3 separate regions of the Homo sapiens genome follow, and all the other regions are linked to region 1. The links come from fine-mapping of genetic effects on gene expression. A gene starts in region 1. Each other region holds a variant in brackets. All regions are shown on one strand. Distances are from middle to middle.

Evidence for each region.
Region 2: its variant is fine-mapped to the expression of SLC25A24 in lymphoblastoid cells (TwinsUK, PIP 0.95).
Region 3: its variant is fine-mapped to the expression of SLC25A24 in cerebellum (GTEx, PIP 0.98).

What each region holds. Positions count from the first base shown.
Region 1 is chr1:108,195,837-108,204,019 of GRCh38, reverse strand. It overlaps SLC25A24 (solute carrier family 25 member 24), which reads left to right and starts at 3,677. Exons shown (of 10, transcript NM_013386.5): 1 at 3,677-4,064. The coding sequence starts at 3,882. RefSeq lists an enhancer at 3,459-3,753 and a silencer at 3,554-3,893.
Region 2 is chr1:108,150,160-108,158,342 of GRCh38, reverse strand. SLC25A24 (solute carrier family 25 member 24) reads left to right here. Exons shown (of 10, transcript NM_013386.5): 5 at 723-881; 6 at 3,208-3,360. Among named protein-coding and RNA genes, the nearest start is that of SLC25A24, 46 kb to the left of the region's middle. The variant T/AT (reference allele first, on the strand shown) is at 4,270.
Region 3 is chr1:108,229,435-108,237,617 of GRCh38, reverse strand. It overlaps NBPF4 (NBPF member 4), which reads left to right. Exons shown (of 15, transcript NM_001143989.3): 7 at 280-331; 8 at 1,209-1,348; 9 at 2,331-2,382; 10 at 3,207-3,376; 11 at 4,407-4,458; 12 at 5,190-5,362. Among named protein-coding and RNA genes, the nearest start is that of NBPF4, 11 kb to the left of the region's middle. The variant A/G (reference allele first, on the strand shown) is at 3,800.

The DNA.
Region 1 (8,183 bases):
TAGTTCAACCGTTGTGGAAGACAGTGTGGTGATTCCTCAAGGATCTAGAACCAGAAATACCATTTGACCCAGCAATCCCATTACTGGGTGTATATATCCAAAGGATTATAAATCATTCACATGCACGTTTATTGCACCACTATTCACAACAGCAAAGACTTGGACCCAACCCAAATGCCCATCAGTGATAGAATGGATAAAGAAAATGTGGCACATATATACCATGGAATAGTATGCAGCCATAAAAAAGGATGAGTTCATGTCCTTTGTAGTGACATGGATGATGCTGAAAGCCATCATTCTCAGCAAACTAACACAGGAACAGAAAACCAAACACCGCATGTTCTCAGTCATAAGTGGGAGTTGAACAATGAGAACACATGGACACAGGGAGGAGAACATCACATGCCGGGGCCTGTTGGGGGTGGGGAGGGGAGGGAGTGGGGAGGGGAGGGATAGCATTAGGAGACATACCTAATGTAGGTGATGGGTTGATGGGTGCAGCAAACCACCATGGCACATTTATACCTATGTAACAAACCTGCACATTCTGCACATGTATCCCAGAACTTAAAGTACAATGAAAAAAAATTATCCTTCCAGTAATGGTTATGGCTTTACACTGAACCAATCAAATTCTCTTACAGAGCCTAAGCTGTGATTACTCAAATTTGAGGGAGCAATGACCAGGATCTTTTTTTCCTTTCTGAATATTCTTGAAGGATTTTGAAATAGAATTGTTCCTTGTGGAGAGGCAGATTCTTTGGTCTTATTAGCACTACACAATAAGTAAGTGATTCAGTGGATAGAAAGAAGAAATGTGTTTATCAACTAAAACTAGCCAAATCCAGAATGATTATGAAAAGATTCCAAAGTAGGTGCTGAAAGAGGTCTTCAAGGACTGAAACTGGTCAAGTCTGAAGGTTATTCCAGTGGAAAATGGTAGTACATTAGAAGGCCAGAAGTTGGGGACAATAGAAGTAGCTAAATTGGGCTGAACCCTAGACTTCTGTTCTGACCAAGGAAATGAATTAAGGAAGTGTGAATTCTGGGTTTCTACTACTGCCCTCTAGGAACCACTGGTCTTTGGGAATTGCCAGTAGAATTAAGCAGGGGTGCCTTCTTTCGTCCAGATGTGTAAATGTCCATGTAAAGGTTTCTTCTCTTATGCAGGAAGTTGCTAGTGTTAATTACACCTTTTATCTTCATGGTGTTATCTCGATTCCTTGCAGACATAGTGTCGTAAAATACAGTAAAAATGCAATACTAGAAAATTGAAATTAAAAAGACAAGCTCTGAGTTTTATTATTAGATATAACAAAATTACTTTATCAAATTGCTATAAAGTTTCTAAATCCTTCCTCTCAATGTCTGACTCATTGCAGACAGGTAACAGGTTGCACTTCGAGTGGTTTGCTTCATACTAGCTGTGCTTTTCAAACTTTATGAAATGCTCATCCAGGGTTCTTGTATAAGTGCAATTCTTACTTAGTGGGCTTGGGCAGGCCTGAGATTATTTCTGACAAGCTCCCAAGTGACACTGATGCTGCTGGTCTGTGGCCCACACTTCATAAACGCTTTGATTTTCACAGTAACACTGATGTGACACCAATGCTGCTGGTGTGTGGCCCATACTTCATAACTATTCATAAACTGTTTTGATGTTCACACTGATCTTTTGAGAATTTTTATTCCATTTTACTCATGCTTAAGTCAGATTTATTGATATCCCAGAGTAAATTAACCCATGTTAGTGTGCAGTTCTGCTGGCACACACATGCAGTTGTGTAACCACTACCACCAAAAGCAAGATGTAAAATAGCTCCATCACCCCCACAAGCCTTCTGATGCTCTTTTGTCATCAATTCCCTTCCCGCTAGTCACAACTGGTAACTACTGATTTGTTTTCTGTCCCTATAGTTTTGCCTTTTCCAGAATGTCATTGTTGACAGGTATCAGTAATTCATTCCTTTTTATTGCTAATTACTATCTCACTGTATGAATGCAACACAGGTTGTTTACCAGTTCACCCGTTAAAGAACATTTTGTTTCTGCGCTTGACAGTTATGAATAGAACTGCTATAAACCCTCAAGTAAAAGTTTTGGTGTGAAGATAATTTTCTCAGCAAAAACGCTGACAGGTAATTTTTCTAAGTATTACTTTTTTAAAAAAGTAAAATAGCCTGTAGCCCCAGCTACTCAGGAGGCTGAGGCAGGAGAATAGCTTGAACCCAGGAGGCGGAGGTTGCAGTGAGTTGAGATTGTGCCACTGCATTCCAGCCTGGGCGACAGAGCTAGACTGTCTCAAAGAAAAAAAAAAAAAAAAAAGAAATAAATAAAAAGTAAAATGAAAGCATGTAAGTGTAAGATGACTAGTTCAAGCAACCTCTCTTCAAGTACAGAGTATTCAGAGTAGAGATTAAAAGAGGTTTTCAAGGACAGAGAAAATTTGAAGTTTGAAGGCAGTTCCAAAGGAAGGCAATGATTCTTAATAAGACTGGAAGTTGGAAGTAATATAAAAAGATAAATCAGTTTCAAGATGATTTTACTAAGCAGGCAGCCCTTAATTTACAAATTCTAGATTCATACATATCTTAAACATACAAAATGATATGAGGAGAGGTAAGTTCAGGGTCTGAGTTCCTGGCTGTTGTTGGAACTGATTTCTGTGTAGTGATTCAGAAGATGTGAGACACCCTAATTTACAAGTACAGAGGTATCTTCTTTTCTGCAAACAGCAGTACAACAATAGTTCCTCTTACGCAGCTGTGAATGAACAGGATTATTACAATTAATGATATCTCATTTGATTGGCGCCTTAGAGAATTAAGACCTTTCACACCTAATATACAACTTTGTTGTGAAGGCAGATATTTATATTCTCATTTTACTGATGAGAGACTACCCGGAGACGCTATGTCACACCTGAAGGATTAGGTACTTTCTCTGTTAAGTCCAATGTTCCTTCCGTTATTCCATGCTAGGCAGTAATAAGTTCTGTCTTGCCTGAGTAATAAGCTCCAAACCTCGGAACTGCACCCATCTTGAGAAGGAGGAGGGCGCTGTGGTTTTTTCTGATAAGTGCAGCTGGCAGACACTCTATACGCTTAATCACGGGCAAATCCTAGCTAAGCTGCCTACCAAACTAGTCCTTCTTTTCCCCGTTGCCCACGCAGATGGCTGTTGATCTTTTCTGCAACAAATCCAGGAGTTTCTCCTTTTTGTTTTATAATTGCTCCAATAGATGCTTTAGGATTTAACTCTCTGCTTTTTAAAGCAGAATCGCCATCCCAGGTGTGCAACCACGAAAAAATTAGACATCCGTGAGAGACAATGCCCTCCATGGCCCAGTTTCCAGGCAGAGAGAAGCAGCTCTGGGCTGACCGCCAAGGCTCCGGCCCGAGAGGGTCTTTAAGTGGAGTAACCAGTCTTCAAGACCCCGCTCCCAAGCCACCGACGCGCTGACGCTGCAGCCCTGGACCTGCTGGGGGCCTCTTCCTCGGACCCGCATGCTGACAGCGGGACTGGCAACTGGGCAGAGGTCGACCCCGGGTCCGCACAGCACCTCCCGAGACCCAGCTCCCAGCTCCCTCACTTCCGGCTCTCTGGAGGCGGGCCCGGCCAGTGCCGCCGAGGCCAGCGCGGCGAGCTCCTCCCCAGCAGCGGCGGGACGGCCACACCCTGCGCTCCGCGCGGGCTCGGGTGGGGTCTCCGCTCCTGCGCCCTGCGCCCTGCGCGCCGCAGCCGCAACCCCGACGGCGCCCCAAACGCTGTTGCGCCGCGCGCCCCGCCCAGCCCGGCCTCGCGCTGGTCCCGGTCTCGCCCCGCAGCCCTCGATCTCCCGTGACTTCCTCGGCCAGGCCGCCTGCGCCTCTGGGACCATGTTGCGCTGGCTGCGGGACTTCGTGCTGCCCACCGCGGCCTGCCAGGACGCGGAGCAGCCGACGCGCTACGAGACCCTCTTCCAGGCACTGGACCGCAATGGGGACGGAGTGGTGGACATCGGCGAGCTGCAGGAGGGGCTCAGGAACCTGGGCATCCCTCTGGGCCAGGACGCCGAGGAGGTGGGTCGCCGCCGGGGCGCCGCCTGAGCGTAGGGAGGGCTGCGGGCGCTGGGGACACTGCGAGGACCGAGGAGGGCGGCGGCTTGAGGCGTTGCCAGGAGAGGAAGGAGGAACTGTGGCGCCCAGCGCTCCGGTGGCTTCAGAAACTCGGGCGTGGGGCCGCGACCGGCGACCCCGGTAACAGAAGTGGGTCATAATACGAAAGTCTACTGGTATTTGTCCAGATAAAATGAGTGTTGTGGACACTCTGGCCCACGGGCACTGTTAAATTTTTAAGACACTTTTGTCCTGAATCCATCCCAGGTTCTTTGTTTTCTGTTTTAATACCTTGCAGACATGTAATCCGTTTTAGCTGTCAGACTTCAGTGGGTCCCAAGTTTTGTATAAAGGCGCACACATTCGATCTCTTTCGAAGCTGCTTTGTTACAGCAGCTATGTGTATTGTCTACTGTTTGAAAACTGTTTGAAAACCAATCGCGTGTTTCCCCCACTTCCTGTTGAGAAGGAATGGCGGCATTCCATTGTTTAAGACATTCCTAGGTTAATGCCCTAGGTACATAAATTGATCTGAAGGGTTGACTTGACCTGCGACTGAGCAATTTCATTTTCTCTGAGTCATCTTAACTGTGCCCCTGAACTTCTGCCCCTTTAGTAGGGTGGAGATATGTGGAACTTCTCCAACCCTGTTGAAGCGTTCCCTGACACTGGCATTCTCTTATCCAAAGAGGGAAAGTGATTAGGTTACTATGAGGGCCAACAACTGTTATATAGTTATATTTCACTTCTCTTTTAATGTCTTTGGTAGTTATAGGCCTCTTCAGTTTACTGTTTCTTCTAGAGTCAGATTTAGTAAGTTACAATTTTTTTTGAAACTGCCTGTTCTGTCCAAGGTTCATAATACTCACCGATGATTTTATAACACTTCTGACTGAATCTGTAGGTAGGTTCTCTATTTCATTCCTCATATCTATCCTTTTCTCCCCTTCAATCTTGCCAAAGTTTTGTGTATTTTATTCATACTTTGAAGGAACCAACTTTTGGTACTTTGTGCTGATTGTCCCAGAAATGGCCCAGTTGGAGTTCCCCACCATGTCCAATCATTGGCTGGAAGCAGCCCAGGAAAGGGACGACCTTGCTGCAGTGCATCAGCAGATGCCAGGGTTAGAGGCTAGAGAGTGGAAGTCAACTGTGTTCCTCACAGTAGGTGCCTTTGAAGGGAGATCTCAGTGGTACAACTCCATGGTCCCTACAATATACAAAAGCTCTTTGGAGTGCTCAATGATTTTTAAGATTGTAAAGGGATCCTGAGATCAAAAAGCTTGAGAATTGCTGCTGTATCACCATTTTTACGTAACTGCATCATATTCTGTTATATGTTTGTGTCATAGTATATGTTACCAATTCTTTTTAAATCACCTTTTACTTTATTGATAGTTTAAAAACGATTGTAAGTGAAATTGCAATGGATGTCCTTTGTATTCATTTTCTCATTCTGGTCCAGTTACTTTCGTAAGATAAATTTTGAGGAGTGGACATTGCTGAGTCTGAAGGTAACACACATTTTAAACTGGGATACGTATTGCCTTTCGGAAACCTTAGACCCATTTTCACTCTTTTGACTGACAGTGCTTGCTTCTCCACATCCTCGCTCATTCAGGGTATCAGTCTTTGTAAAGTCTCCTATTCTGCAGGTGAAATTCCTTTTCATTTCCTGTCTTAGTCCATTTAGTGTTGCTATAGTGGAATATCTGAGACAGGGTAATTTATAAAGAAAAGACATTTATTTAGCTCACAGTTCCGCAGGCTGGGAAGTTTAAGAAGCGTGGTGCTGGCATCTGCTGGACTCCTGGGGAGGGCTTTCCTGCTGTGTCACAACATGGTGGAAAGTCAAAGTGGAAGTGGACATGTGTGAAGAAGCAAAATCCGAGGGGTGTCCTGGCTTTATAGCAACCCAGCCTCGAGGGAACTGATCCATTACTGAGGGAACTAATTCAGTCTCATGAGAGAGAGAACTCACTCACTACTGCAAGAATGACACCAAGCCATTCATGAGGGATCTGCCTCCGTAACCCTGACACCTCCTGCTAGGTCCCTCCTCCCAACACGGCCACATCAGGGATCAGACTTCAACATGAGTTTTTGTGGGGACAAACAAAACGTAGCACTTGCTTTGCCTTTTGGTTCTATTCACATCCTCCACAGGATTGCATTATGCCTACCCATTTGGTGAGGGCAGTCTTCTTTAATTGGTTTACTGATTCAAATGCTACCCTCCTCCAGAGACATCCTCACAGACACACCCAGAAATCATGTTTTACCAGTTATCTGGGCATCCCTTAGTCCAGACGAGTTGATACATAAAATTAACCATCACACATGGGATAGAATTAGGATTACACAGTCAACCTTTATGGGAGAAAATTTCAGAGGCATGTCAGGGGTTTATGTAATGTCAAGGAGTGAGGACATTGGCTACTTGAGCATAGAAATGAGAACTGTGGGGTGACTCTTCGGTGGAAAGTTTCAAGGTAGTAGTTTGTATCTAAGCCAAATACTCAGCTTGAAGCAAAATCTCTATAAATTTTCATCTGATTTGATCTCATCTCCGTGTTTCCAAGCATTTGTAATGAATTGAGCATTTAGAAGAGAACAAATTTCTGTTTAAGTTTCTTTAGATTTTAGATGGAAAGAATGTAGAAATAAGAGTAGAATGTAGAAATAGGTATAAGGAATATAATAGCTAACCATTACTAAGTGTTCCAGAATTATCCAGGGAAGAGAAAAGAATTCAAGGCAAGTCCTGAGACAAAATTAAGAACCAATTGGAAGTGAAAGCGCTACATTTTTTTTTCTGGTATGACCTTTCTTTTCTGTATGTTCCAAATCTCCTCACTATGAAATTAGTGAAAAATTAAAGTTAAAAATTAGAGAAAATTCACATTAAGTTCTCCTAGGACTCAGTAGTATAAGGGTATAGACTGAGAGTAGAATGTAGTGTGAGAACAAGGAGATACAGTATTTAACCATTACTAATTCTCTTATACTTGTCTAGTAATCCTATTTCCTTTTAAAAGTCTTCAGTTATTTTCTCTTTACGCACCTCCTTCTCCCTCTTGTCTTCCTCCTTCTACCCCCATCTTCTTTCTTCCTGTGGAGCCTTCATGAATGGGATTAGTGCTTGTATAAAAGTGACCTGGAAGACCTTCCTTGCCCCTTCCACCATGTGAGGACACAGTGAGAAAACAGTGGTCCATGGAACCGGAAAGTGGGTCCTCACTAGACAGTAAATCTCCTAGCACTTCGATCTAGGACTTCCAGTGTCTGGAACTGCAAGAAATCAATGCTTATTTTTTAAGTAAGCCAATAGTATTTTTGTCATAGCAGCCCAGTTGGACTAGGACAATTATCAAGAGCAAGAAGGGAAGCAGCAAGCTACAAGAGAGTTCCGTCCTTGGTGTAAATTGACCGTGTAATCCTTGTCAAGTTTGAGCCTTACTGGAGCTTTACTTTCTTATTCTTAAAATGCAGATATCTTGCCTGCATCCTGGACAGAGCTTTTAACAAGGTCATATGTTGCAGAATATGAAAGTTCATGTTAAAAAACCCTTTAAAATGTGGTATCCCATTTACTAGCTGGTGAACTTCTTGAGGAACCTCTGTGCCCATGGGTATGAAGTGTATGCTGAATGATCACCCAATGTTAGAGGAGTGGGTGGACTGGTAACCTGATTTAAGGGCCATTCTAACTCTTACATTCTATGATTTTTTTAATTCTGTCTTTAAGTTTTTACATTTACAATCACAGAAAAAATAGTCACATAGAAGAATAGTAGCTTAGCAAATGTTTATTGCATTGAGTGGAATCAGGATTTCACTCCATTAAGTAATTCCTCTGTTAACAAAGAGGGTTCATTTCATTTTTATTTCATTAATATTGCTTTTTTTTTTTTTTTCTGGAGACAGAATCTTGCTCTATCACCAAGGCTGGAGTGCAGTGGTGCGATCTCGGCTCACTGCAGCCTCTGCTTCCTGGATTCAAGCGATTCTTGTGCCTCAGCCTCCCAAGCAGCTGAGATTACAGGCACATGCCACCACACCTGGTTAACTTTTGTATTTTCT
Region 2 (8,183 bases), 46 kb after region 1:
TTTTCTGCCAAAACAATTTAGATAATAGAATTGTAAAAATATTATTATAGAATTGTTTCTCTCAAACTATAGTAATGTAGAATAGGTTGAAGGGGTGATGATTTGAAACAATACCTCTCCATTAGCTAAATTTTATATAGAATCTATTGCATGTTTTAAATGATAAGTCAGATTTATAAAAATATTTTTATAAACAGTAGGAAATGAGTTTAGGGGTATTCACATACAGTTTTAATTTTTATTTACATATTTAAAACATATCATGGTATAAATATGATGTGGATATAAATTTGAGATAAAGGAAGTATTGTTTAAGAATTGATGAACGAATTTCTTAAAAGATGTCATCACCAGTTGGTTTTCTAGCCTTATGAAAAATGGTTGCAATAAAAAAGATTGACTATGATAAAATGCTGCCCTTTCATTTTAACCTAGACCAAGAGAAAACATACTGTGAATCTATGATGAATGAAAGAAAGTTGTAACTGTTGGTTTTGTATATTTGTAATTACTGTTTATTTTCATTTCTTGTGAACTGATACTGTACTTTGTTCATTGTGAGTAGACAACTTATAATCTATGTACTCAAATTGGTTTAGTATAAATTCTAGGGAATGAAGTTCATATTAACTGTAAAATAACATGATTCTTCTCTAAAACAAAACGTCTTCTGGGATTATTTTTAACTAAGGCGCATGGGGATCTTTTTTTCATTTTTACAGGGAATTGACATAGGGGATAGCTTAACTATTCCAGATGAATTCACGGAAGACGAAAAAAAATCCGGACAATGGTGGAGGCAGCTTTTGGCAGGAGGCATTGCTGGTGCTGTCTCTCGAACAAGCACTGCCCCTTTGGACCGTCTGAAAATCATGATGCAGGTGAGCTTTATTATCGTGTGTCCAGGTTTGCCCTAAATATTCTAAAACAATGAGAAATGTGGTGCTTTGAAAAAGAAGTTTTAAAATTTCTCAGTAATAATCTTTTATACCCTAAAAAATAAATCTATTTTGTTGCTGTTAACTCTAAATTCAGTCCATGTAAGTATGGCAGTGTACCAAACCTTAAATTGTTAGTACATGTGTGTAATGAACTTTTAATCTTTGGCATTCTATGACTATTCAAACATTTAATTCAAAAAATATCTCTAGCTATTGTTGTAGGATTCTCCTGATTTATAGTTTCCTTCTTTTTAATATACTTTATCAAAAGTAAAGTATTTTTGAAATCTAGAATCTTAGAGCAGCAATGTAATTTTGAAAATTATTCTAAAGCTGAGGTTAGCAGAAAAAGATCTGGCTTTATAGACTGACTTTGCTATTTACTAGCAGTGTAGCATTGGGCTGGCCAGAGTGGAAAGAGGGAATGGAAAAGAATTAATATGTATTTGCTCACTGTGGTAACCCAGTTAATCCTTGCAGCAGCCCAGTGAAGTAGGTATTTTATCATTTTTCCAGGGGGAATCTGAGGCCCAGAGAATTGACTTTTCCTTTACAACAAATGAGAGGGGGAATGCAGTATCTTTGCCTCCAGTGCTCCTGGTTCTCATGCTGCATGAAACCTCTGAGGTCTCATTTTCCTTCATTCTGGGATGGGGATAAGAATATCTAATAAGAATGGTTTAAGAATCAAGCAATATCAGGTATGTGATAATGTCTGGTACACTGGAATAACCTATTGGAACATAGTAGTTGTTTACAAAATATTTTTAAAACTTTGTTATACTTATGGTCAACACTTTTTATATTTGTCTGTAGATTTCTGTACAAAAAGATTCTGACACTGTTTTAAGCCAGCATTCCTTCAGAATGTACCCAAATCTCAAAATTTATTTAGGGGCAAAGCTAATGCTTTAAAGAAAAAGGAGAGGGGATTGGTGTGTGTTTTTCTTTAGGAACAGTAGTAACTTGACTTTTAGAGAACTTGAATAAGCATTTATTTTTTCCTTTGTCCTATTTTATTGTGAAGTTTATTTATTTAAAATAAAATGGATTTCTCTGGAATTTAGTTTCTGCAAATTTGAGGAGTTTCCAAAGTCAACCTTCAGGTTTGATACTTCTCTAGAAAGACTCACATAACTCACTGAAAGCTTATTACCCCTGGTTATGGTTTATTACGGGGAAAAGATGCGGATGAAAATCAGTCAAGTAAAGAAGCACATAGGGCAGAGCTTCTGTTGTCCTCTCCCTGTGGAGTCTCCATGTCTTACTTTCCTGGCACTGTTATGTGGCACTAGGCATGGAATATTGCAGACCAACCAGGGAAGCTCACCTGAGCCTTTGGTGTGCAGAGTTCTTATTGGGGCCCGTTTTCATACTGGCCACATGGCTGGCCTTCAGAATTCAACCCGTTCTGTGAGTGTGTGTGTGTGTGTGTGTGTGTGTGTGTGTGTTTAGTGGTAGTCACCCCTTTTATGTGAGCTGAAACAATCAGAAGAATAGCTGATTTGTTTAATTATTTTTGGTGTATTGGACTTAATCAGTTTTTATCTGTAGGTGGTCATAAGGTACAGTATTTTTAAGTGACTACCACATCTGTAGTATAAGCCAAGTAATTTATCAGTACTCACAGGATGGGTACATGTTGTAATGAATTTATTGCCTAGAGAGGGCCTCAAAATATGCCAAAGAGGGTGCAATTTTTATTTTTGGTTTCAGGCTGTATGCATTCCAGTGTTGGTAGCCCTGATATACACAATATCCAAACCATTTCAGACCCATTTACAGTTCATGTCTGTACTACTTCTTGAGGAGAGGGAGTAACATATTACTTTAAATTATATGTAATAATATACATACATTAAATTATATGTAATAATATAATATTATTATCTGCAGTATACTTTTTTATTTCCCTTTAACTGAGCCTGTTCATGTTTCAAAGGGTGTTCCATTGCCTGATACATAATTTAGTTAATATTATCTTATGAAGGTTGTTCATAATTTTAATACTCTTCTTGTCTTCTCTCTCTGCTTTCTCACACTGAAGATACCAATTATTCTTAGTTTTAGAGTCAGAGACAGGCCTCTAAAATCATGGCAATACTCCCTCTCATCATTATATATATTTTTCAACCTTTCTATATTTTATTTTCAAATATATCTTCTTGCAGTTAGAAAGGGTATTGAAAAAGATTGTGTGGTTGTTCTAGAAAAAGTAATAGTAATATGCCACCAGCATTTTATATCATTCTGCTTTTATTTTTAGGTTCACGGTTCAAAATCAGACAAAATGAACATATTTGGTGGCTTTCGACAGATGGTAAAAGAAGGAGGTATCCGCTCGCTTTGGAGGGGAAATGGTACAAACGTCATCAAAATTGCTCCTGAGACAGCTGTTAAATTCTGGGCATATGAACAGGTAATTGTTATCACCCGTGGAATTTATTAACAAAGAGGAGTTAGTAAACGGATTCAATAAATGTTAATGTATAATGCTTTTGGGATTCTTGTTTTAATACATGATAATCTTTCACATATACTCCATAAGGAGGATCACTTATAGGAGATTAGACTAAATAAAATCAGAGATTTCTCATGACCAAGTTATGGGATTCTTAATTCATCATATTATTTATAAAGTTTTTTTTTTCTAAGTAGTTCTTAAAGGAAGGGTAGAATTTTAGTTTATTCATTCTGAATCCTGAGCAGAAGCAGCACACTAACATAAGTTTTATGAAAGTGTCACAATCTAACCTCTGGAAGGAAAACTATAAGTTGAAGTCCTTTGTGTAATTTGACGTTGCTGTAAAATTGAGCTGAGTTTGGAGTGACACCTCCATGAAGGCAGGGGCGTGGCTTCTTCCCCATGTACTCCAGCACCTAGACAGAGCTTGGCATGTGATAAGTTTCAAGCGAGTGTTGAATGAGTCAATGAATGAACAAATGCATTTACCTCTGAATCACTTCTCTGTCGGCTTTTGTTAACTTGGATTATTTGAGCTATTGCTTCAGCCTAACTCAATGTAAAGGGGAAATACAGAGGTAAGTTTTAGAGTTTGGGTTCTCTTTATGGTCATTAGCAGAACTGTCTAGTTGAGCAGCCACAGATTATGTTTTCCATTATTTATTCCATCATTGTTTATCAAGGACTGTAAGGGCCTTGAAATTCAACTCCCCCCCCATAGTTTTTGTATTATTCCATGTAGATTTTAGATTATTCTGGAGAGTGTTTTGTTCTTGAGCAAGAGAATACTCTTGAGAAGTTTACGAAGTCCAGTGGTATCCTTTTCTTTGCCTAGGAAATAGAGAAGCAAAAAAAAAAAAAAAA[T/AT]TAAAGAAAATCTAGTCTCCAGGATTTTAATTAGAACCTATCCTTGGGAAGGCTATTTTCCTTATATGAAGGTTTGAAGATTCAAATCATGATTATTAAGGGCTAATGTTTGAGATACCCTTAGGTTATTCTGACCACATACTTGGATTTTATGATAGGAAAGCCACAGCCTAAAATAAATAAATACTCAATGCAGTTATTTCAGTATGCAAGAAGTTTGGTATTTTTGAAAAAGTCCATGGGTATTGCAAGCAAATATGCACATTTTGCTTTATGCCATTTGTCAGATTCTTACCTTGGATACCACCAACAGGCATCCTCTGCTTCTGTCCACCCAAGCTCCTTCCTGAGACCTCTTTATAGTATTGTGATTTCTGCACACTAACTTTCTTAGACATGAAGAGAAAGCTGTCTACACAGTGTGGTGTAGTGTTCTTATGGGCTCTGGACCTATGGTGCTGTTTTCTCTCCTCCTGCTGAAGGTCCATTCATCCCTCGGGGCTCTCTAAAAGCCACCTTCCTGTGACAAGCATATACTAAGCATCTCAATCAAAGCCAGTTCCTCCCCTGTCCAGCCTCCCTCGAGTGCTGAATTGCAGAATATCCCATTTTTCATTGGATGATGGAAAACCCATTGTTTTCCCAGTGGATTGTAAATTACTTCGGGGTAAATAGGCTGTATATATTCTCAAATTTCCCAGAGTATGTAACTAGGTCACTTTTAGATTCAGATAGATTTTGTTCCTTGAATAGCTAGTACTTTAGGAAACTAAGAAAAAGATCTTTTCAACCTGGTATGTAGCTCTGTCAAACACATCATCAGTATGGGGTAAACCTGTGTTCTCTGTGGGTTGTCATTACCATAGTAGTGTCATTGTATCATTGACAGTGTAATAGTGTGGGGTAGTGTTCTTGTGGTTTCAGCTGCCATCTCTGTACTGACTGCTTTCCACTCCAACATCTTCCTCTTTATCTCAACACTGTAGGTCTACCTGTGTACTGTGTGTTTCAGCATCTCTGCTTGCATGACCCAGGAGTGCCTCCCACTCAATATGGCCACCATGCATGGTCATCTTTCTGCTACTCCCTGTCTCCTGACCCTGCTCCAGCAACACAGACAGACACCCTTCCTCTTTCTATATGTCATATGGTGGGAAATGCCCTTTAGTACTTACTCAGGAGTTAGTTCCTCTGGGAAGCCTTCTGTTCTAGTTTCCTTTTGTTACAGCACTTTCACATTGAATTCTGACGTTCTCTGTACTTATCTGCTTTGTGAGACTGTGAGCTTCCTTAGGCAGTAGCTACTTGTATTCTTAGCACCTTGCCCAGTGCCAGGAAACCCTTATTAAGTAAATGAAAAGACAGAACTGACAGACTGGAATTAGAGCTCAAGCTTGCCTCAATCTCAAGCCATTAAGATGAAGGGGAGCCGGGCGTGGTGGCTCACGCCTCTAATCCCAGCACTTTAGGAGGTAGTTTGCTTGAGCCCAGGAGTTCAAGACCAGCCTGGGCAACGTGGCAAAACCCCATTTCTACAAAAAATATAAAAATTAGTTGGGCGTGGGGGTGTGTGCCTGTACTCAGGATGCTGAGGTGGGAGGATCACTTGAGCTCGAGAGGCAGAGGTTGCAGTGAGCTGGGATCACACCATTGCAATCTAGCCTGGGTGATAGAATGAGACCTTGTCTCAAAAAAAAAATAAATAAATAAATAAAGGGGAAGATAAGGATTGGAAACAGAAGGAGCAGCATGTGGACAGAAATGTAGGCACAAGAAGGCATCACTCACTGAAGAGACTGAAGGTGGTTCACTGTGCCTCAAGACTGGTGGAGTGTGTTTCCGGAAAGATAATGATGAAAGAGCTGGACAGATAAACAGGGGCCAAATGTAATAGGAGTCTGGATTTTATTCTGAATATGGTAGGGGCTATTGTAGCATCTTATATAGGGAAGTGAAATGAGTACATTCACATTTAAGGAATATCAACCTGAAAAAAGAGTGGAGACATTGTTGGGGGAGAGTGAGGTAGACTAGAGGCAGGGAGAATATTTAAATAATTGAGGTAAGAAATGATGAACACCAGTATAAGGTGATGTCTTTAAGGAATGGAGAAGGGAATGAACTGAGAAATATTTTGGAAGTAGAATCAACAGAACTCACTGACTGACTGGATATGGAGGTGAGAAAGAGAAGAGTCAAGAATGATATTCTAATTTCTAACTTGAGTGACTGCATTCAAAGAGAATACAATATCAGGTTCCATTTTGTGCATGCTGAGTTTGAGATGTGTGGGACATGTACAGGGAGCTGTCCAGTAAGCAATTGGGTATATCAGCTAGCCATTAAGAGAGAGATCTTTGATAGAGAGGTTGTTGCTGAGTTGAGCCATTGGAATGGGCAGGATCACTCAAGAAGAGCTTATAAATGAGAAGAATTCTAGGAATAAGTCCAAAGGGAGAAGTAAAAGAAGAAACTTGCAAAGGACACTGAGAAGAAATAGCTCGAGGGATGGGAGAAAATCCAGAGAGAGGGATGGCATAGGAGTCAGTGGAAGGAAACGGTTTCATGGGGGTCAGTACTACTGGGTAGTGAATATAATAAGAATATCTTTTAGGATTTCTCAACCCAGAGATAGGTAAGCTTAGTATAAATGCTTCTGTGAAGTAATGAAATGAGAAACCATGCTGAAATGAGCTTAAAGTGAATGGGAGGTGAAGAAACTTGGACAGTAGAGACACATTTTTAGGGAGTTTGACAGTGAAGAGAAGGAAACTAGAAGAGGGAGAGGGTGATAGATAAGAAAGATGTTGGGTGGAGGGGATTTGTTTTTTTGTTTTTTTGTTTTTTTTCTGTTTGTATGTTTGTTTGTTTTTGAGATGGAGTCTCACTTTATCACCCAGGCTGGAGTAAAGTGGTGCAATCTCATCTCACTGCAACCTCTGCCTCCTAGGTTCAAGTGATTCTTCTGCCTCAACCTCCTGAGTAGTTAGGATTACAGGAGTGCACCACAACACCCAGCTAATTTTTGTATTTTTAGTAGAGGTGAGGTTTCACCGTATTGGCCAGGCTGGTTTCAAACTCCTGACCTCAAGTGGTCCTCCTGCCTCAGCCTCCCGAAATGCTGGGATTGCAGGAGTGAGCCACCGTGCCTGGCCTGGAGGGAGGATTTTGATTTGACTTTAATGTGCCTGTTGCTGAAGGAAGCATGTCAATACAAATAAAGAAGTTGAAAACATAGGTAAGAGAGGTTGATTAACCCGGTAGGTGTTTCAAGGGAGTTTGTGTGTAGGGAAAGGGAGTGGGAGATGGAAAGGGGCTGGGGGAGACAGGTTCTATCCAGAGACTGTTAAAAGGATTAGTCTTTGATTACAAGAAGAACTCTTCTTATACGTGTTTGGGAAGAAAAAATATGTGAGTAGCTATGGATAATTTTGCAGGAGGTGGGCAGAATACCAAGATATTCTGCCTGGTGGCCTCTCTACTCTTCCTTGAGCTCCTGAGAAAGGATGTGATCTGAGAATGAGGGAGGAAGTGGTATTGGAAGCTGGAGGAGAATGGAGAAGATCAAAATGGTTAGTCTAACAAATGGGAGAGAACTGAGATAGACAAAAGGATTTCAGGGTGGTTTTGAGGGCTCAGTTAAGTCTCCTTTAGGAAGGTTCAGTTCTGTAGCCTTGGCAAGTTACTTAAAGTCTCTGTGACTATTACCTCATCTCTAAGATGGGGACTAAGCTTGGTGACATAGTTTTACATACCAGGCACAGTGCCTGACTTTTTGGCTCTGTCCTGAAGTCTTCCCTTTGTATATGGTATGTTTCGGGGAATAGGAGCCTCAAGCACTTATCCTTTAAATATTTATCCTCCATCAGTCACTAAACGTTTACTCTGTACTTTTGATAGGTGCTGTGGGGGTC
Region 3 (8,183 bases), 34 kb before region 1:
TTAGGGCAATTTTTGAAAATCTTGGGGAAAAAGTTTTGTTTAATTGTTTGCACAGACTTAGGTCAGAGGATAGGTGATTATGATCTACCAGATGAGGGAGATTTTGTCCTATGGGTCTGGAAAGCAGGCACATCTACTTCTGAAAATAAGTCAGAATGATCCTGTCAAAATGTCACATTCTTACACTGAGGATATTTATGTTCTTGTGCTATGACTGGACACTTATTTGCTCTTGTGTGATTTCCTTACTGTGACCTGCTCTTCTGAATTTGTTTACAGAAAATCAAAATGACCATGAGGAGGAGGAGGGGAAAGCGCCAGTGCCCCCCAGGTAACTGTGGATTTGTGGGCTGTTAGTTCAATAGTGACATCTGGACACCACGGATCAAGGGAAAATAGGAAGTGACGAATAGAACTGTCTCATCCATTCATCCAAGTGCAAATTGCCCCTTTAACAATGTTGTCTTCTTTATTGTGGTACTTGAATAGGTTTCAATTTCTTAATCCCTCTCAAGCATAGGAACCGACAATCACTTGAACCAGGTGAACTGACCAACCTCAGGGATTTCCTGATCTCACCTGTGGTCTCCCATGTGGCTAATCCAGGGTGAGATGCATATATGCTTTCTGTATGTTTTGTGACAGCATGTTGGCAAGTATTTGAATGCAATCGAGAAAATTAAAAATAAAAATTTCATATTATGTCAAAATATTGAAAAAAAAGGGGGACCTTAAAAACACAGGATCTGTGCGTTGGGAATGCCTCAAGAGCTGTGTTCACTTGGATGCTGCATGTAATGTCAACGCAATTTGTGTAAAGGAAGTGAAGTCCCAGCTTAGTTCTCAGTGCTGCAAGTCATGATGCTTGATGCTAGCTTACAGGGAGAGTCTGGGTCCTCCTGCAGCCGCTCGTTTGTGGCAAGTGCACTGAGCACCTGCTGCTCATGTTTGCTCTGTCTCCAGGACAGTCACACTCCACCCCACATTTAGAAGGATAGATTTTTCTCTCTTGGAGGAGACCCTCCTTTGCTTTCTGTGACCACACCCTTTGTGTCCTATCAAATCACCTGAGATACTATGGTGTTGAATCTGTCTTGGTCTAACCTTCTGTCGTTCTATCCTACCTGGCTCATCAGAAAGCTGCAGGATTCTGAAGAGAAGGGAGTCCTGCAGGACTTGCCAGAGAAATGTGTTTTGTCTCATTCTAGACACCATGACAAGTCCAACTCTTACCGGCATCGTGAAGTCTCTTTCTTGGCATTGGATGAACAGAAAGTTTGCTCCGCTCAGGATGTTGCCAGGGATTACTCCAATCCCAAATGGGATGAAACCTCACTTGGCTTCCTCGGTAGGCTCCCTATTGTTTGTACCCCAGATTTGTCCATAGTGACGGATGTCATACCTTCAGGAAGACTCTATGCTTATATACTGGTTAGAACCAGGCTCTAGGATTGAGTTTGAAGGAAGGCATCCTATAAGTCAGAGTTGTGCTCCATTCTAGTCCAAAACCACACATTGTCTTTCATCATTGCCCCATTGGCAGATCACTGTACCCAAGGTTGACCTGACAAATTCATACCCACCTCTGCAGCCTGGGTGCAGGGTGTATCTACCAGTCCTCCTGATTTAGATTTAATCTGTCATCTCACATGAAATCTAATTTTCCCTCCCAAACAACCTGAGTTTCTCTGCCTGTCCAAGGCCACTGGCAGCCTTATCGATATTCTTGGAGCTGTCATTTCCCTCGTTCACTTCTCTCAGGCTAGACTCCCTCCCCTTTTAGTAGGCTTGTCTTAGCTAAGAAGTCTCTGAGTACCAGAACATGAACACCACTATTAAATTTTGTATGTTTCTCTGAAAGGAGGCCGGGCCCTGGAACTCCCTGCCATATGAAAGGCCAATGTTTCCATGTAGCATTAGAGATTCTTTTGATTTAATCTGTCCCTCTAAATGCAAATTCTACAAAAACACTGACAACAGCTTATCAGAAGGAAACATGCTGAATACTGCAGTAACCTGCTAAGAAGCATTAAAGTAGATCCCCAGGATCTGTTAGTAAACAGGATATGGTTAACAGTTTGCTGTGACTCAAGACAGAAGGGACTGTGATGATGACCTGTCAGATCAGGGAGATTTGCTCCATGACTCAGGAAAGCAAACCTAGTGACTTCTCACAAGGCTCACCCTGAGACCTCCTGGAAAGTTTCTCTCACAATAGCCTGTTCTCGCACTGCGTGTATTTATGCCCCTATGTAGATTTGGACACAAGGTTGTGCATGTGTGAATGTGATCAGGTTCACCTGGCTGGTCTTCTCTTAATTTATTTACAGAAAAGCAAAGTGATCTTGAAGAGGTGAAAGGACAAGAAACAGTTGCTCCCAGGTAATTGAGAAAAATCAGGGGCTGTCTATTCAGGGGTGATATCTGTGAAACTCATCTCCACAGAAAACCAGAAAGTCCTGAATATACCTAATTCATCCCTTCAGCCAACCGGAAATGATCTTTTTTAACCATGTTTTACATTTTCATTGTGAAACTTTTAATGTTTGCATTTCTTATTAACTTCTTAAGTTCAGTACATCAAACCACTTGACCTTGTGAACAACTAATCAGTCACACAGATTTCCTTAAAGTAAGTATACTCTTCTTATGGTGTCAACCAGCCTGAGATGCATATCTGCTTTCTGCTGGTTTTGCATTAGCACAGTGGTGAGCATTTCAAGGCAAGGAAATTAGGTAGAAAAAAATTATTGTTATACCATGCACAATATTGAGAGAAAGAGGACTTGATGCCATGCGATTTCGGGGATACGATTATGCCTCAAAACCTATGTTTACTTGGCCACTACACATAAAATTTAACATCATTTAAAAGAAAGGAATGAAACCACTGTTATAGGACATGATATTCAGTAAGTCACGACTCTACCATACAGAGAGACTCAGTCTCCTTCCTCAGAAAATCATAATCTGGCTACTTTGCTGAGCACCTGATGCTTCTCTCTCTCTCATCTCTCTCTTTCCCTCTCTCTGTATTGCAACCTACCCATGGCAACCACACTGTGCCCACCAAGAAGAGGAGAATATTTAACTGTTTAATGGGTTGACCCATTTGTTTTCTGCGATCACTCCCTCATGCCTCACGTGAAATCCAGCTAGGGCTCTGAAACTCCTTGGATTAATCTTTAGTCCTTCTTACCCTACAGGCTCAGCAGGGGACCGCTGAGAGTGGACAAGCATGAAATCCCCCAGGAGTCACTGGATGGATGTTGCTTGACTCCTTCCATCCTTCCTGACCTGACTCCCTCCTACCACCCTTATTGGAGCACTTTGTACTCTTTTGAAGACAAGCAAGTCAGCTTGGCTCTTGTAGACAGTGAGTACTCCATTGTGAACATGATAAATCTCCAATTGGTGTCCCAGGTAGACTCCGTAATCCTTGCACTTCACATCCCTGGCTGGACTGAGATGTGTCATTGGTGTGGGCGTGACTCACAGACACAGGATGATTTGCATCAGCATCAAAAATCAAGTTGGAAGCACAGACAGGGGTGGGTCAGTGAGCTTTGCTCTCTTCCTCATCTCAGACCATGCCTGTGTCACCCTGCGCCCACTGTCACGACATTGACAAATTCACACCAACCTATGCAGCACGTGCCCAACAGGTGTCTGTCAGGCCTCTTAATCTGAATAAGATTTGTCTTGCCAGCTATCGTGTTCCTTACAAGTTCCTTTCCCCAACCATGTCCTGTGAGATTCTATGCCTGCCCAACGCCTGTGGCATTTTTGTCTACTTTTC[A/G]TTAAAGATATTACCCAGGTTTCAAAGAACCTAGCCTCATTCTCTATGTCTTTGATGTTATCCTGTTTTAGCTGAGCAGTCCATTACCTTTTGTTATGTTTCTAGAAACAAGATTGGGCCTTGTCACTCCTAGATGTCACGAATAGCCAATGTCTCTTTGTATTGAACCAAAGATTCATTTTCATTCAAGGGTCTGTAGATTCCCTCCTACATTCTAGTTTCAGTGTCTAAAATCCTTGTAACCATGAACAACGTGAGTATTTGATGATTGAAAGCTGAATATTGCAGTTTTCCTTCTAGAAAGCAGCTGGGGTATTTGCCTTCAACTGGTGTGAAAAATTTGCATAACTGTTTGCACAAAATCAGGACAGATGATGTTGGGATAATGATCTACCAGAACAGGGAGATTGCATTCCTAGGCCCAGGGAAGAAAACCAAGGCATCTCTCTCATGACAGGACCTCAGGCCTCCTGGAATATTTCTCTCACAGTGTCCTGTTCTCCCACTGAGGAAACTGACATTTCTATGTTAGGATTGCACAGTGGATTGTTTATGTGTGTAGGAGAACCTGCTTAATCTGTCTGTCCCTTTGTGAATTTATTTACAGAAATTAAAAAGGATCAAGAGGAGATAGAAGACCAAAGCCCACCATGCCCCAGGTAACTCTGAGGAATCCTGAACAGTTAATTCAGTGTTGATATCTGGAGTCTCAGATGCAGGGAAAATCAGAGTGTGCTGAATATACCTGTTCCATCTGTTCAGCCAACCATGAAATGCCATATTCATAAGGTTGACTCTTTTCATTGTACACCTGTATTTCTAGTTCCTCCTTATTAATTCCTTTCAATTCGTCTAATCTGCATTCAGTTGACTCTGTTGAACTGATCACTCACAGACATTTTCTGCAGTCCCCTTTTCTGTCCTTTTTGCTTAAAGTGAAGTTGAGTTGCACATCTGATGTCTGCCTCTTTGGCATTACCATGTTTGCAAGTATTCGATAGCAGGGAAGTGAATGAAAATAAATCATGCCATGCTACAATGTTGAGAACAAGAGCTGTTGAGGATACAGGAACTCTGTGAAGACTCAAGAGCCTGTATTCATTTGGCCACTGACGCTAATTTCAACAAAATGGATGCAAAAGTGCCGAATGCACTGTGTCCTGGCAGTTCCCCGCAGGGATCACTCCATCTGCTTCCTCCCCAGCTCATTGCCTGCCCAGTGCACTGAGAGCCTGTCGTGCTCTGTCTCCTACTCGAGACAGGGAAGGATGGTTGTATCTCTCTCAGGGGAATGTACTTTGCTTCCTCTGGGCCTTCCTAAGGGCCTCCCTATAGAACCAGCTGGGTGTTGGTTCTCTCTGGTGTTTATCTTCTGTCTTCTTTACCCCAGGCTCAGCCAGGAGCTGCCAGAGGTGAAGGAGCAGGAAGTCCCAGAGGACTCTGTGAATGAAGTTTACTTGACTCCCTCAGTTCACCATGACGTGTCTGACTGCCACCAGCCTTATAGCAGCACCTTGTCCTCATTGGAGGATCAGCTTGCCTGCTCTGCTCTGGATGTAGCCTGTGAGTACTTCACCCTGGAGATCACAAAGCTCCACTGTCCTCCCAGGCAGCCTCTGTATGTTTTGTTTCCTGCAACTTGTGCAGCTGAGACAGACCATCTCTGCAGCAGGCTCTATACACTGAGCTTGTTTTGAATCTGGCTCTTGGATCCAGTTTTAAGCACAGACATCCACTGGGTAGAACTTCCTCTTCTCCTGTTCCAAGTGCCTCCTCTGTCACCTGGCTCCTTCTCACAGGAGCAGGCTTTGGCTATCAAAACAGGCCAGAGAAGGGAGTGGTGAGGGCTTATGGCAAATTCCTGGCCACAGTAGCTCAGCTGGAGAAATTTATGTAACAGCCCTCCTTCTTTAAGATAGGGCATCTCTCTTTTCTGAAATTATCTTGCTAATTCCATGTCTTTATCTCTTCTCTGGCCATCCACATATGTTGGGAGTTTTGCCCAATTATTTGGAGGCCTGTTTCATGATTCCTGTGTCCCAAGCTAGATTCTCTTCTTCAGGGATCCCCAGCCCTGGGGCCATGGGCCATTATGGGTCCATGACCTGTTAGGAACTGGGCCGCAGAGCAGGAGGTGAGCGGTGGGAGAGCATTTCAGCCTGGATCCCACCTCCTGTCAGATCAGCAGTGGCATTAGATTCTCACAGGAGCTCGAACTCTATTGTGAATTGTGCATGCCAGCAATCTAGATTGTGTTTTCCTTACGAGAATCTAATGCCTGATGATCTGTCACTGTCTCCCAGTAACTGTCACCCCCAGGTGAGACCATCTAGTTGCAAGAAAACAATCTTAGGGCTCCCACTGATTCTGCATTATGGTGAGTTGTATAATTATTTCATTATATATTCCAATATAATGTTTATAGAAATGAAGTGCACAGTAAATGGAATGTGCTTGAATCATCCCAAAACCATCCCCCCCAACCTGGTGCCTGAAAAATGGTCTTCCATGAAACCAGTCCCGGGTGCCAAAAAGATTTGGGACTGCGGCTCTACTTCCTCTGAGGTGTCTTCCCTCCACTGACGCAGTCCAGCGACCCTTCCTTTATGTGTGGCCGGGCTTGCATCCTCTGCAGAGCTCCAGTGGTTTTCTCCATGTGTGGGTTTGTAGTGTCAATCAAGTTTTGGTCTCAGTGCTCTATTCTCATGAAAACCATCGACAACTAGTGTCCCTCATGAGGCTCTGGCCTAACCGATGAGCAAAGCAGAGTGGTTCCTGTCCCCATGAGGTCCAGAAAACCCTTCCTCTGAGCAATCGCCCCTTGAGATAGCAGCTTCACAGGATGTGTAAAAAGAAAATCCAATTTTCATTTCTTCTTGCTCATTCTCTTTTTTTTTTACTTCAATTCTGGGAATTTCATGTGGATTGTTGGGGGTTTTACCCATTACATTATCTTCTAGTAAGAGCAAGGAACTCTGTGATGTCCCCCAGTATATTGGATTATGTTGTAACGAGATTAGCAAAAATGCCAGGTGTGTTGATTCATGCCTGTAATTCCAGCACTTTGGGAGGCTAAGGAGGTGGATCGCATGAGCTCAGGAGTTTGAGACCAGTGTGGGTAACATGGTGAAACCGTATCTGTAAAAAAAAATTAGCAGAGTATGGGGGTACACACCTGTAGTCCCAGCTTTTTGGGAGGCTGAGGTGGAAGGATCACCTGAGCCTGGTTAGTTGAGGCTGCAGTGAGCCATGATTGCACCACTGCACTCCAGCCTGAGCAACAAAGTGAGACCCTGTGTCACACACACACAAAGAAAGAAACTAGCAACAAAAATGTTGGCCTCTATTCTATTTTGGTAAGTGCCTTTCATACTGGGACCAGCCCCTTTCCCATTTTGCATTTCTCCCTGAGTTTCAAAAAAGCAAATGCTTTTCTAGCATCACAGTGATTCATGAAACAATTAGGATACACACTGACCTTGCAAGTGCCTTTCATACTGGGACCAGCCCCTTTCCCATTTTGCATTTCTCCCTGAGTTTCAAAAAAGCAAATGCTTTTCTAGCATCACAGTGATTCATGAAACAATTAGAATACACACTGACCTTGCACCTGCTGTATGCCCTGCCCCTTTGCAAGCAAGCTCTGTCCTGCTATAAACCATTCAGGGATCAAGGGACACGCCCAAGTGGGCAGTGGCATCTCCATGTTGGAGCTGAGAACAATGAGGCATTTTTAAGAAAACTTAGAAAACCTTGGAGAGAATGAAGATGTGGAGAGGGGAGGAGAGAGAGGAGCCCCACAGCAACGTGGATCCAGTCTGCAGGCCCCGTCCCCATCTTGAGACCGACCTGGACTGGCGTGAGGTCATTGGAAGTCTTTTCTTAGTCCACTCAGAACGTGTATTCCTCTCCCTGTGGAAATGGAAACAATTTGTTTAAGGGGTGCCACCCGAACCCCACTGGAGGAGTGGGTAATGTGAGGATCGTGTCCTGTGTTGCCTTCCTAAGGAACCGCACATGCTGATCTGTAGCACTTGTGGCCCCTGAATTTGCAGGAAGGGACTGGTCCCTCTCCTACATTGCCTATGTCTGCTGACACCCACTATATGGCAAGAGGATGGATATGTGTGGGTAGGGGGTCAAACCATTATAGTCAATGGGAAATTCAAAATGTCCCCGAACCCAGAAAAGTTTGCCTCACTTAGCGTTTGGTCTGTAGCATCCCAGCCCCCTTTTTCGTGGTTCTTTCTCAAAGCCTCGCAGCTCTAACCCTTGACCCGTTCTTACACCCCTGTGTGTGGAGAAAAATAACCATTCCTCTCCTGTGCTCTGAGGCCTCTCTAGAACTTTCCCTCTGGGCACAGGAAAGAGATGAATAGTAACA